Regions from separate parts of the Homo sapiens genome. Here all the other regions are linked to region 1. The links come from fine-mapping of genetic effects on gene expression. A gene starts in region 1. Each other region holds a variant in brackets. All regions are shown on one strand. Distances are between the middles of the regions.

Evidence for each region. PIP is the estimated chance that this variant, and not a neighbour inherited with it, causes the effect.
Region 2: its variant is fine-mapped to the expression of CASC15 in testis (GTEx, PIP above 0.99).
Region 3: its variant is fine-mapped to the expression of CASC15 in nasal epithelium (TOPMed, PIP above 0.99).
Region 4: its variant is fine-mapped to the expression of CASC15 in adrenal gland (GTEx, PIP 0.96).

Annotation. Positions count from the first base shown.
Region 1 is chr6:21,665,026-21,667,703 of GRCh38, reverse strand. It overlaps CASC15 (cancer susceptibility 15), which reads right to left and starts at 1,291. Exons shown (of 12, transcript NR_015410.2): 1 at 1,059-1,291. LOC124901483 reads left to right here and starts at 1,644. Exons shown (of 3, transcript XM_047419653.1): 1 at 1,644-1,652; 2 at 1,889-2,057. The coding sequence starts at 1,644. RefSeq lists a silencer at 1,732-2,026.
Region 2 is chr6:21,897,416-21,900,102 of GRCh38, reverse strand. The region is part of intron 4 of CASC15 (cancer susceptibility 15); the gene reads right to left. Among named protein-coding and RNA genes, the nearest start is that of CASC15, 230 kb to the right of the region's middle. The variant T/C (reference allele first, on the strand shown) is at 1,425.
Region 3 is chr6:21,817,904-21,820,590 of GRCh38, reverse strand. The region is part of intron 4 of CASC15 (cancer susceptibility 15); the gene reads right to left. Among named protein-coding and RNA genes, the nearest start is that of CASC15, 150 kb to the right of the region's middle. The variant C/T (reference allele first, on the strand shown) is at 1,606.
Region 4 is chr6:22,150,506-22,153,192 of GRCh38, reverse strand. The region is part of intron 9 of CASC15 (cancer susceptibility 15); the gene reads right to left. Among named protein-coding and RNA genes, the nearest start is that of NBAT1, 4.7 kb to the right of the region's middle. RefSeq lists an enhancer at 2,035-2,687. The variant T/C (reference allele first, on the strand shown) is at 1,337.

The DNA.
Region 1 (2,678 bases):
TGGGTGTTGAGTGTTCCCCTCATTCGCGCATGACCCAACCTAGAAACATTCCTAAGTTAAGCTACTTAGGAAACAAAGTTAGGGCGTCTTCCTTAGCCTATAAAAACGGAGTGGACTGCGCTGCCTCTTCACCCCGCAGCAGCAGAAACAGCCATCCCTCTTTTGGACGGGCGTGGCAGATAGAAACAAAAGGTTAAAACACAAAAGGCGGGGCGGAAGGCTGGGTCAGAGGAGCTTCTGGGGCTCACGTTCTGCTTTCTATTCAAACACACTGAAGTGGGGTTGGGGGCGGGGGGTGATGGAAAGTGAGAGAGGTGAGGACGGATACCAAGGATTGCCTGGGTTATTCCGGGTGGATCGTGAAACTGAAAGGGGCGGACGGGATGGCTCTAACTAGTGGTCCAGGCCCCATCCCCTCCATCCCTGCATCTCTGACAGTCTGTAACCTGTGGCTTCCTCCACCCCATCTCAGCCCCGAAGAAAACTTTCTGAACTCTTAGCTGTTTGTTGTAAACCTCTCCTTGACCGCTAACACAAGGGACCAATCCCCTCCAACCCAAACCTTTCTTCCTTCCATTGTTGCAGCGTTTTTATATTGTGCGTGGTATCTACAGAGCGCTCTGCAGACAGCTAAGTTATACAAACGACCCCCATATCCATATCGCTTTCTTTTGCATGACCAGGGTCAGGGCTAGGGTGGGGGCGAGGCTGGACTTGACCCTCTCAATTTCTGCATATTCATCCCTACATGAGTGCAGCTGGAAGAACGCGAAGCAATACCCCCTCACCCCACCCTTTTGAAACCCTCCTCCCCATCCCCCCAGCCCCTCATATAAAGAAGCACATAAGATAAATGCCTACTTGGCTTTTGCCTATTAAAAATAAACAAATGAAACAATTGCGCGAGTTCTTTAAAGAACAAAAGAGAAGGGAACGGGGAAAGGAGGTACAATTTACCAGCCAAACTTTGCCACTGGGCTACTCCTCTGCCCTCCGAAGGGCGGGGAGCGGGGCGAGTTGAGGGGAGAGAGGTAAACAAGACAACAGTCCCCACTCACCTTCTTCCCCACTTCGTCGCACTTTTAAGGGACATTTCCCCCGCTGCAGTCCACGAGGCGTTCGGACACTTTTTCCCGGCCTGACAGCAGAGAAAGTCGGGGCGGCAAAGTTGCGAGAGGGAGATACCCCGGCGTCCGGGGGAGAGGGGAGGAAAGAGAGTTCATCAGAGTTCCCCCTTTTGTTCCAAGTCCCGGAGCAGACAAAGAGGCGGCGAGCGGCGGCAGGTTTCTCCCTCTCACCCCTTCTTCCTCTCTCCCTCCCCTCCCTCCCCGCCCCCTCCCTCTCCCCGCATCTCCCGCCCGGCTCGGGAACCTCCGAGGCGAGCTGGGGCTGCTCGGTCCCCAGTTCATCACAACTCTGCCCAGACGGTCTCCTCCCACTGCCAGGCTCGAAACTTTCCCCGGGAGATGCCAGCCCTGGCCCCCTCCGCACCGCGCACAAGTCTGGGGTGGTGGGCAGGGGATCTCCAAAATCATTGTTTCCCGGAGATGCACCTCTTTGTTTGCACTTTCCCTGCCAATCAATGTGAAACATTCACTTGGGCGTCGAGTTTCTGTCCATTTTTCGTCATCCCAAGAGACAAAATGCAAAGGGTAGGGGGTCAACCCTAGATAAAGGCGCTTACACAATCAGAGGTGGGGCGCAGGCTAGGCTCTTCATCCTCCTTCCTCCTCTCGGATTCACCCTCCTCCCTCCTCTCGGATTCACCCTCCTCCACCCAATACACAGAACAACTCAAAGGGGCTCCAAGTGTTAGGAAACTCCTCTCCCGCCCTTCCCCACCTACCCCCACCCACGCTGTCCCTCTGGAGAGCCCTCTAATTGGCAGGACAAAGGCCAGCTCCGGGTTCGGCCGGGGCCTCCGCCCATCCCTCGGGGCTACCTGTTGCTGCAGGCGCAGCGCAACTCGGTCCAGGGGCTCCGAGGAAGAATTCCCAGCTCCAGCATCGCGCCCACCTTCTCAGGCCCCGAACTTCCCCTAATCTCAAACTGCGAAGGCAAGGCTCTCAGGATGACCAGGCGCCCTCTGACCCTACAGCCAGGCGCTGCTCACTCGTCCTCTTCCCTACACCACGTCCTCGTGCTCACCCCAAAGATCTGACTCGGGGTCCCAGGCCGCCTCCTCATCCTCCACCCCCTGCCGCGACACGTCCCAGCCGAGCATCCCCTCTTTCCTTCCCCTCCCCCACTGCCTTGTCCGGGACAAATCAGGTGTCTCGGACCAGGAACAGCTCCCGACCCTTCCCCAGGTCCCTTCCAGTCATTCTCAACCTCCAGAATTGGGACCCCATCCACATGGTCCCCCACCCCTCGACCCTGATCCCAACTTCGGGCCATAGCATTAGCTCGCTGAGTGACTCAGAGCAGCACTCGTTTTCCTTCTAGATCCACTAGAATTGAAGAAAAAGAAAGCAGGGAGGTGGGGGAAATGGGAGAGAGTAGGGGCCCGCATGGGGAAGCAATTTCTAGGGCAAAAGAAAAAAACATTTCAATGCGAACACCCACCCTCCAGTTGGTATCCAGCCCGTCGCGCACCTTTGCCTCCACCCTCTTTCCTTTCTCCCCATCCCAGACTTGGAATCCTTTCGGGTTGGTGAAGTTTGGGGGTAGAAGGATGA
Region 2 (2,687 bases), 230 kb before region 1:
CTTTCTAAAGAGTCTTATAAGAGTCGGCTTCACTCCTTAACTTCCTGCAAACAGGCTTTCCCCCATACCACTCCCACTAATCAGTTCTCCTAAAGGTCACCAATTACCTCCGTATCACCACTACTCACTTTTGTAAGCTTATCTTCACTTGGCTTCTCTGTGGCATGTGATACAGTTGACCCACCCTTTCCTTCTGGAAATTATCTCTTCCCTCTGTTTTCTGGACACGATTCTTCCCAGCAATCCTTCTACTTGTCTGACCACTCCTTCCTTATCGTGTTCTTAAGCAACACATTTTCTTCCCCAATTTCCACCCAAACAATGGCTATTCGATGACTGAATGAGCAATTAAGTAATATTTACTTTAAACTTATTTCACACATTGCCGGGGTTCTTTTGAAGTTTGCAGGTTCTAGAGCCTTCGGGATATAGGCTCTCTAGAGCTGTCACTTGAAAGTGAGGGTTCTATTTTATTTACTTTACACCTCTCAATGCCTACCACAATGTAAACCTCACTCTTGTTGCCTAGGCTGGAGCGCAATGGCCTCATCTTGGCCCACTGCAACCTCCGCCTCCCGGGTTCGAGTGATTCTCCTGCCTCAGCCTCCCAAGTAGCTGGGCTTACAGGCATACACCAACATGCCTGGCTAATTTTTGTATTTTTAGTAGAGACGGGGTTTCGCCACGTTGTTTAGGTTGGTCTCGAACTCCTGACCTCAAGGGATCCACCCACCTCCACCTCCCAAAGTGCTGAGATTACAGGTGTGAGCCACTGCAATCGGCCCCAATTTAATCTTAATATAACTTAATCCTCGCATTCAAACCTGCTTTTCCAGGTATATTCTTCCAGTTTTTACTGCCTAAAGCTCCCAAATGATTCAAATGTCAAGTTCACGCCAAGGCCAGTTAAGGGTCTAACATGGGTTCTAGATAATAGCTAAAACAGTAGAAAAATTGTTCCATTTCACTTATTGTGTATTTCTCAGATCCCTGCCAGGTCTCCCTGGCTTGGAACGGCCCCCTGAACTGTCTTATAGGAATGGCCACAGCCTCCTGCCCCTCCCCAGCAGTTGTGTCCCAACTGGCCTTTCTGCCTTCGGAGTGCCTCGTCTGTCCCAATATGAAGCATTAAATGAGATTCAAACATTCCGACAATGTTCCTGCATCTTCTAATTCAATTAGTTGAGCTAAATATGTAAAACCCTAATAACAGAAAATTAGAGGAAGCTCAAAAGGTGTATGCATGTTGGAGTCAGCTAAATTTTGATGAAGAGTAAATTAAGTTAGCTATAGATTAAATTCACAGTATCTCACTCACTAGGAAGTCACACAACACCATTGTTTCATCCTTTGTTATCTTCCCTTGAAGACTTTGCTTTACCCACAGTCCTCTGTAAATGTTCTCCATTGCATCCTTTTTTGAA[T/C]AGTACATTCTGAAGTCTACTTCTGATCTCTGACCTCACAGATGTTCTCCTATTAGTTCTATGCTCAGCATAACGGAATGTTAATAGGCTGTTATGACTTACTCTACAAAAATCAGTGGTCTCAATCCTGCCGGGTAAATAAGCTACTTTGGCGGGCACGGCTATCCACACAGCATTAGGTACCATTTGATAAGTCATAGCCTTCAAAGAACAAAAATTTATCCTAAGGAATTCAGAACTTTCATAAACGGATTTTTTGTTTGATTTAGATATTGAGACTAATTTTCCACCTCCTTCTACATACCTGAAAAATAGCAAGGTGGCAGATCCTGACTAGCCTATAATATGGACAACATCCAAAATATTGCACAACACTGAAAAGATAAAATTTCAACAGAGAATGATGAGTACTGAGTTATGAATTTTGGGACACAGTTGGCTGGTACAAGAAAGGTTTTTGTTTTGTTTAAGTCTAGGAATAAAAGTACTATATAACAATAATCCCCTGGTAGATCAAGCTAGGACTTTGAAAAGGCACATGGTGGAATTCAACATCAATTTTTCATAAAAATTATCTTTCAACAAATGAAAGGTCATTCTTTGATAATAGAAGTGTGATAGTACATGAGGCTGACCCAAGAAGGTATCAATTTTAAGATGCAGCAGATTTTTAAAAAGATCATCTTGCTTTGAAAGAATGAGAAAAGAAAAGCTTTTCTAAACTTCTAAGAGTTAGAGAAAACATATTTTCTTTTTTCCTGGGGTTATCTTGGATCGTATGTGTATTCACAGTTAAGGTTTTTTTCAGTGTTTTGTTTTGTTTAATACAACACATCTGTAAAATTATTACCAAGCCAGAAGGCTCTACTTTCTTTTTTTTTTTTTTTTGAGACGGAGTTTTGCTCTTGTTGCCCAGGCTAGAGTGCAGTGGCATGATCTCAGCTCACCGCAACCTCCACCTCCGGGGTTCAAGCAATTCTCCTGCCTCAGTCTCCCGAGTACTTAGGATTACAGGCATGCGCCACCACGCCCGGCTAATTTTGTATTTTAGTAGAGATGGGGTTTCTCCATGTTGGTCAGGCTAGTCTTGAACTCCTGACCTCAGATGATCCACCCACCTCGGCCTCCCAAAGTGCTGGGATTACAGGTATGAGCCACTGCACTCGGCCTTTTTTTTTTTTTTTTTTGAGACAGAGTCTCACTCTGTTGCCCAGGCTGGAGTGCAGTGGCGCCATCTCAGCTCACTCCTGCCTCCGCCTCCTG
Region 3 (2,687 bases), 150 kb before region 1:
TACACCCATCAATTGGCTCAATTTATTTATCTAATAGTATCTCTCAAGTCTAGTGAGATCTTTTTTGAGGTACTCTTCTCAAATGTTATTGATACCTACTGGGGTTGTGCTTTGCATAATCTTTCTTTTAAACATAGATTTTTTTTTTTTTTTTTTTTTTTTTTTTGAGATGGAGTTTTGCTCTTGTCACCCAGGCTGGAGTGCAATGGCACGATCTCGGCTCACCGCAACCTCCGCCTCCCAGGTTCAAGCAATTCTCCTACCTCAGCCTCCCAAGTAGCTGGGATTACAGACATGTGCCACCATACCCGGCTAAATTTTTTTTGTATTTTTAGTAGAGACAGGGTTTCTCCATGTTGGTCAGGCTGGTCTCAAACTCCCAACCTCAGGTGATCCACCCACCTCAGCCTCCCAAAGTGCTGGGATTACAGGCGTGAGCCACCGCGCCCGGCTTTAAACATAGATTTTTAAAACTTCAATTAGAAAATGGGGAAAAGACATGAACAGCCACTTCACCAAAGATGATATATGGATGGCCAAGAAAAGATGTTCGACATCATTAGCTCTCAGGGAAACACAAATTAAAGCTACAATAAGATACTCCTTCACATCTATCAGAATGGTTAAAATAAAAAATAGGCTGGGTGGGGTGGCTCACGCCTGTAATCCTAACATTTTGGAAGGCCGAGGTGGGTGGATCATCTGAGGTCAGGAGTTTGAGACCAGCCTGGCCATCATGGCAAAACCCCATCTTTACTAGAAATACAAAAAAAAATTAGCCAGGTGTGGTGATGGGTGCCCATAGTCCCAGCTACTCAGGAAGCTGAGGCAGGAGAATGGCTTGAGCCTGGGGCAGGGCCGAAGTTGCAGTGAGCTGAGAAAGCGCCACTGAACACCAGCCTGGGTGATAGAGCGAGACCCCATCGAAAAAAAAAAAAAGAAAGAAAAAAGCCAATTCCAAAAGATTATGAACTATATGATTCTATTTACATATATGAAGTTTATTAGAAATGGAGACCCAATAAGTAGTTTCCAAGGGATAAGGATAGGAGACTGGTGAGAAGAAACTGGGTACAGCTACAAAAAAACAATAGGAGGGATCCATGCTGTAACAGTTCAGCATCTTTACTGTAGTGGTAGATATACAAACCTATATATGTGATAAAACTGCACACAACTGAGTATACACACACACACACACACACACGCAAATGAGTACAGGTAAAACTATGGAAATCTGAGTAAGATTGGTAGATTACATCAATATCAATCCTAGTTATGATATTGTACTACAGTTTTGCTAAATGTTATCACTAGGGGAGACCAGGTAAAGCTACATTGTTTCTTCAGCTGATGTAAATCTACAATTATCACAATTAAAATTCTAACTAGCAAATAGATCAATAAAAAACATTTTCAACTTTAGCCATTTCAAAATAACAATGAATGTTACCTTCTTTCTTCTTTGAAACAGGACCACTCTTTTTTCTACACCACTTCTTATGATATAGCTTCCATTAAATACATTGTGAAAAACTATTAAATTTAAGCTTACGCATGAAAGAAGCCTTACAAAAGAGCAGAGATTATGAGACTTCATTTACA[C/T]GAAGCCCTAGAACAGGCAAATCGAATGGACAATGGGGAAGAAAAACAAAACAAAACAACACAAAACAGGTTGCCCTTGGAGGTGGTAAGGCAGTGGTTGACGGGATGGAGCAAGAAAAAACTAGCTAGGTGATGGCAATGTTCCATATTATGATAGGAGTCCCAGGGACACAAGGATATGCATGTGTCAAAACTCAAGGAATGCACTGGCTGGGGCGGTGGCTCACGCCCGTAATCCCAGCACTTTGGGAGGCCAAGGCAGGTGGATCACCTGAGGTCAGGGGTTCGAGACCAGCCTGGCCAACATCGTGAAACCCCACTGTACTAAAAATACAAAAAATTAGCCAGGTGTAGTGATGGGTGCCTGTAATCCCAGCTACTCAGGAGACTGAGGCAGGAGAATCGCTTGAGCCCGGGAGGCAGAAGTTGCAGTGAGCCAAGATCGCGCCATTGTACTCCAGCCTGGGCAACAAGAGCAAAACTCCATCTCAAAAAACAAACAAACAAAAACAAAACACACATACACACACAAATACACCAATAAGATATTTGTACTTCATTGTATGTAAATCTCATATTTTAAAAACTAAACAAAATTTTAATTCATCTTAAATTACTGACTTTATATCTGGTACATTCTTCCACTTGAAGATGCTATGCCGTAAGATACAATGCTTTGGCTGTATCCAAAGTCACCAAACTAAATCATTTGGGGGAAAAAAATCTCTTATGGGTTCTTCTCAGGGAAAGGAAATTCAACAGAGTAACCATGAAGCAAATTCATATAAAAAGTATCATTAAATCAAACTAAATTAAATTAAAACAGACGTAATTAGGGCTCTCTGAAAGTAGTTTTGGCTAACACTTTGTTTACATGCAATATAGATGTAGCAACTACTGACCTCAGGCACTTTTAGCTGCTGTTACATTAATTATTACATGTGCTTTTTATATTCCAGCTCAAAATATCCTTTAGAGTCTGACTAACTAAGGTCTTTCTGCCAAGGTTACTTCAAATGAATCTCAGGTCCCACAGAAGAAGGAAAAAAATCCTATGAAATCCACATACTGATACAGATGTA
Region 4 (2,687 bases), 490 kb before region 1:
GGTCTATAACCCACAGGCAAATCCAACCCCTTGCCTCTTTTTGTAAACAAAGTTTGATTGGAACACAGCCATACTCACTCATTTACTATTGTCTATGGCTGCTTTTTAGCTACACCAGCCAAGTTCAGTAGTTGCTATAGAAACCATACAGTCCACAAAGCCTAAAGTATTTACTATCTGGCCCTTTATAGAAAAACTTTGTTGATCCCTGCCCTATGCCATTGATACATCCACAGATAGAAGACTTCATTATTCCTCTTAACATCTGTCTTCTGGATACTCATCAATTCACTCATTCATTCATTTGTTAATCAACTAATGTCTGTGAAACATCTTCTGTGCCCCTGGCACACAGATGAAGAATGGGTTAGAGACTAGTGGGGAAACAGACTAAAGAATACCACCAGGTGATGGCTGGTCTAATAAGACAGGAGCCTGGTAAAAAGGAAGCCCAGGAGGCATCAGGCTGAGGGAATCAGATAAGGTCTCCGGCAGTGTACAGTTTGGGCGCTTCAGGTATTATGGTTGAGATACTATTACCCATTTTAACAGTGATGTCAAAAATCACTGGTTTACATTATGCTTTTATGACTTCACAAAAGGCACATTCTGACTTACTGATAGATCTTTCATATTATAAAAGTGTTGAGACAGTTTGGAAGAGATGTAGCTTCTCTGTGACATCAGGAGAGCTGATCATCTCCAAGCATCTGATAGTAAGGGCACCAGTTCTTCCCCAAAGTTGTAAGGACTAAGTAACATTAGGTGTCAGACAGAATACAGTCAGGGAAACTATTCAACACAAGATTCACCTGCGCTTCGTGGCCCACCACAATCAACTGCTTATATTCCCTTTTTTGTTTACCCACCAATCCCACCAAAACCTCATTGGTCTATGTTGAACCTTATAACTGGAGAAGTTAGCCTCCTGTGTGAGCAGAAAATAAATACCTAATAAATAAATGATTGATGCAATGAGTGAGGATGATCGCTCCTTTGGTGTTTTAATGAATGGCAAAGGATGAAATGAATACTATGACATACATTGTCTAAGTGAATATCTAGGATTCAAGCTTAAGTATAAGCTTAAGCTTAGCCAAGTCAGCATAAATGACATTTTAAAATATGCTTGCTTTGTTTTTGTTTTTGACTTATTGAATACTTACCTCCCTGGTAATGGATAAAAACAATGGGAAATTCTTAGCAACCTAAACAGCCAAATAAGACTTATATTGAACTATTATAATGTGATCAATTTATTTTTAATCAAACTATAAACATTTGATTGGACTGGGTACCTGGAAACAGGCTGTGCTTTACATACAAATTAGCCATA[T/C]GTTTATTAAAGAATGTTAATAAAAGTATGTTGACGTTTTTCCTTTCTTAAGTGATTTTAAAGTGACATTTTATTTCTATATATTTGCATTTAAATATTTAAATAATTGTCCATTGACCTAAGCAAAATAAATACTGCAAAAGAAAACCAAAAAATGTTCACTTATTAAAACAACAAAGAAATTGCTTCATTTCGGAAGGAGCAGTACCCCAGATAATCTTTTATTCAACAAATATAAATTGGCATTTTATTCAATTACAAAAGATTGCTAGTGTAGTTGGAAACCTTTACAATAAATGTTTGGGGACTCTCAAAGCCAGTGAGGGTATGATCGATCAATTACAACATCAGAATATATACTCTATTTTAGCTTGATAAGATTTATATGCTGAAATGTAAACACTCCTGGATTTAAAAAATGTATATATGATTGATAGATTTCTTGGCTCTGATAGCATTAGAGGATTTGTTTTATTTTGTTTTGACTGTAGTCTCCGCTATAAGTAGGAATCACTGTTTTAAAGCATTATGTATCTAAATAGTTCCAAATATTTTTTAAAATGTAAATGAAAAGAAAAATCTACACCTAAATTTTCTCTTGCCTTTTTCACGTGGGCAAAAAAAACTAATGTGACAAGTTTACAAGAATCTCTATTATTCTTTTCCTTTATGTAGCCCAGTTTCTTTTTTACTTGTGATATCCCAGGGTGTTCTCACGAAAATTAATTTCAAATCTAAAAGGCAAGGATAATCACTACTTTCAGCAGTAAAAGGTAACAGAAAGAAATTGCAGTTTAAGCACAGTTAGCATATAATTAAGAACAAGAAAAATTAAAGTATTCTTAAATATGTGTTGCTTTAATTTTTCTCCTGATGGCTTTTCAGATTACCTTAAAAAGATCTATCAAGACTCCTCCTCTAGAAAAGATCTATTAAAAGCCACAGACACTTGGAGATCCATGAGAAGGAAAAAAATGGGTCATCTTATACAGTTGATTATGTGAGTTGTCTACATGCAGTGCATATGTCAGCAACAAGGAAAACAACCTCCAGATACATTCTGCAGGCAGATTTTCTTCTGGAGAAAAACCTATGTTTTCCTATACATTGTGAAGCCAACAGGGTAGGGTAGGAGCAGTTCAGTTTCATCCATAAGCATCCACATCAGGCTGGTTTTTGAAAAGGGAGCCAAACCCACAATACCCCAGAAAATAATATTTTGTAATAACAAAAATGGTATATATATTTTTTTCCTATCTAAATCTGGAATCCTGACCACCTTGTTTTAAACAAGACAGAGATTGCAAGCTTCAATCTGTTTGGATAGAAAAGAATTTATATAAATGTTTTG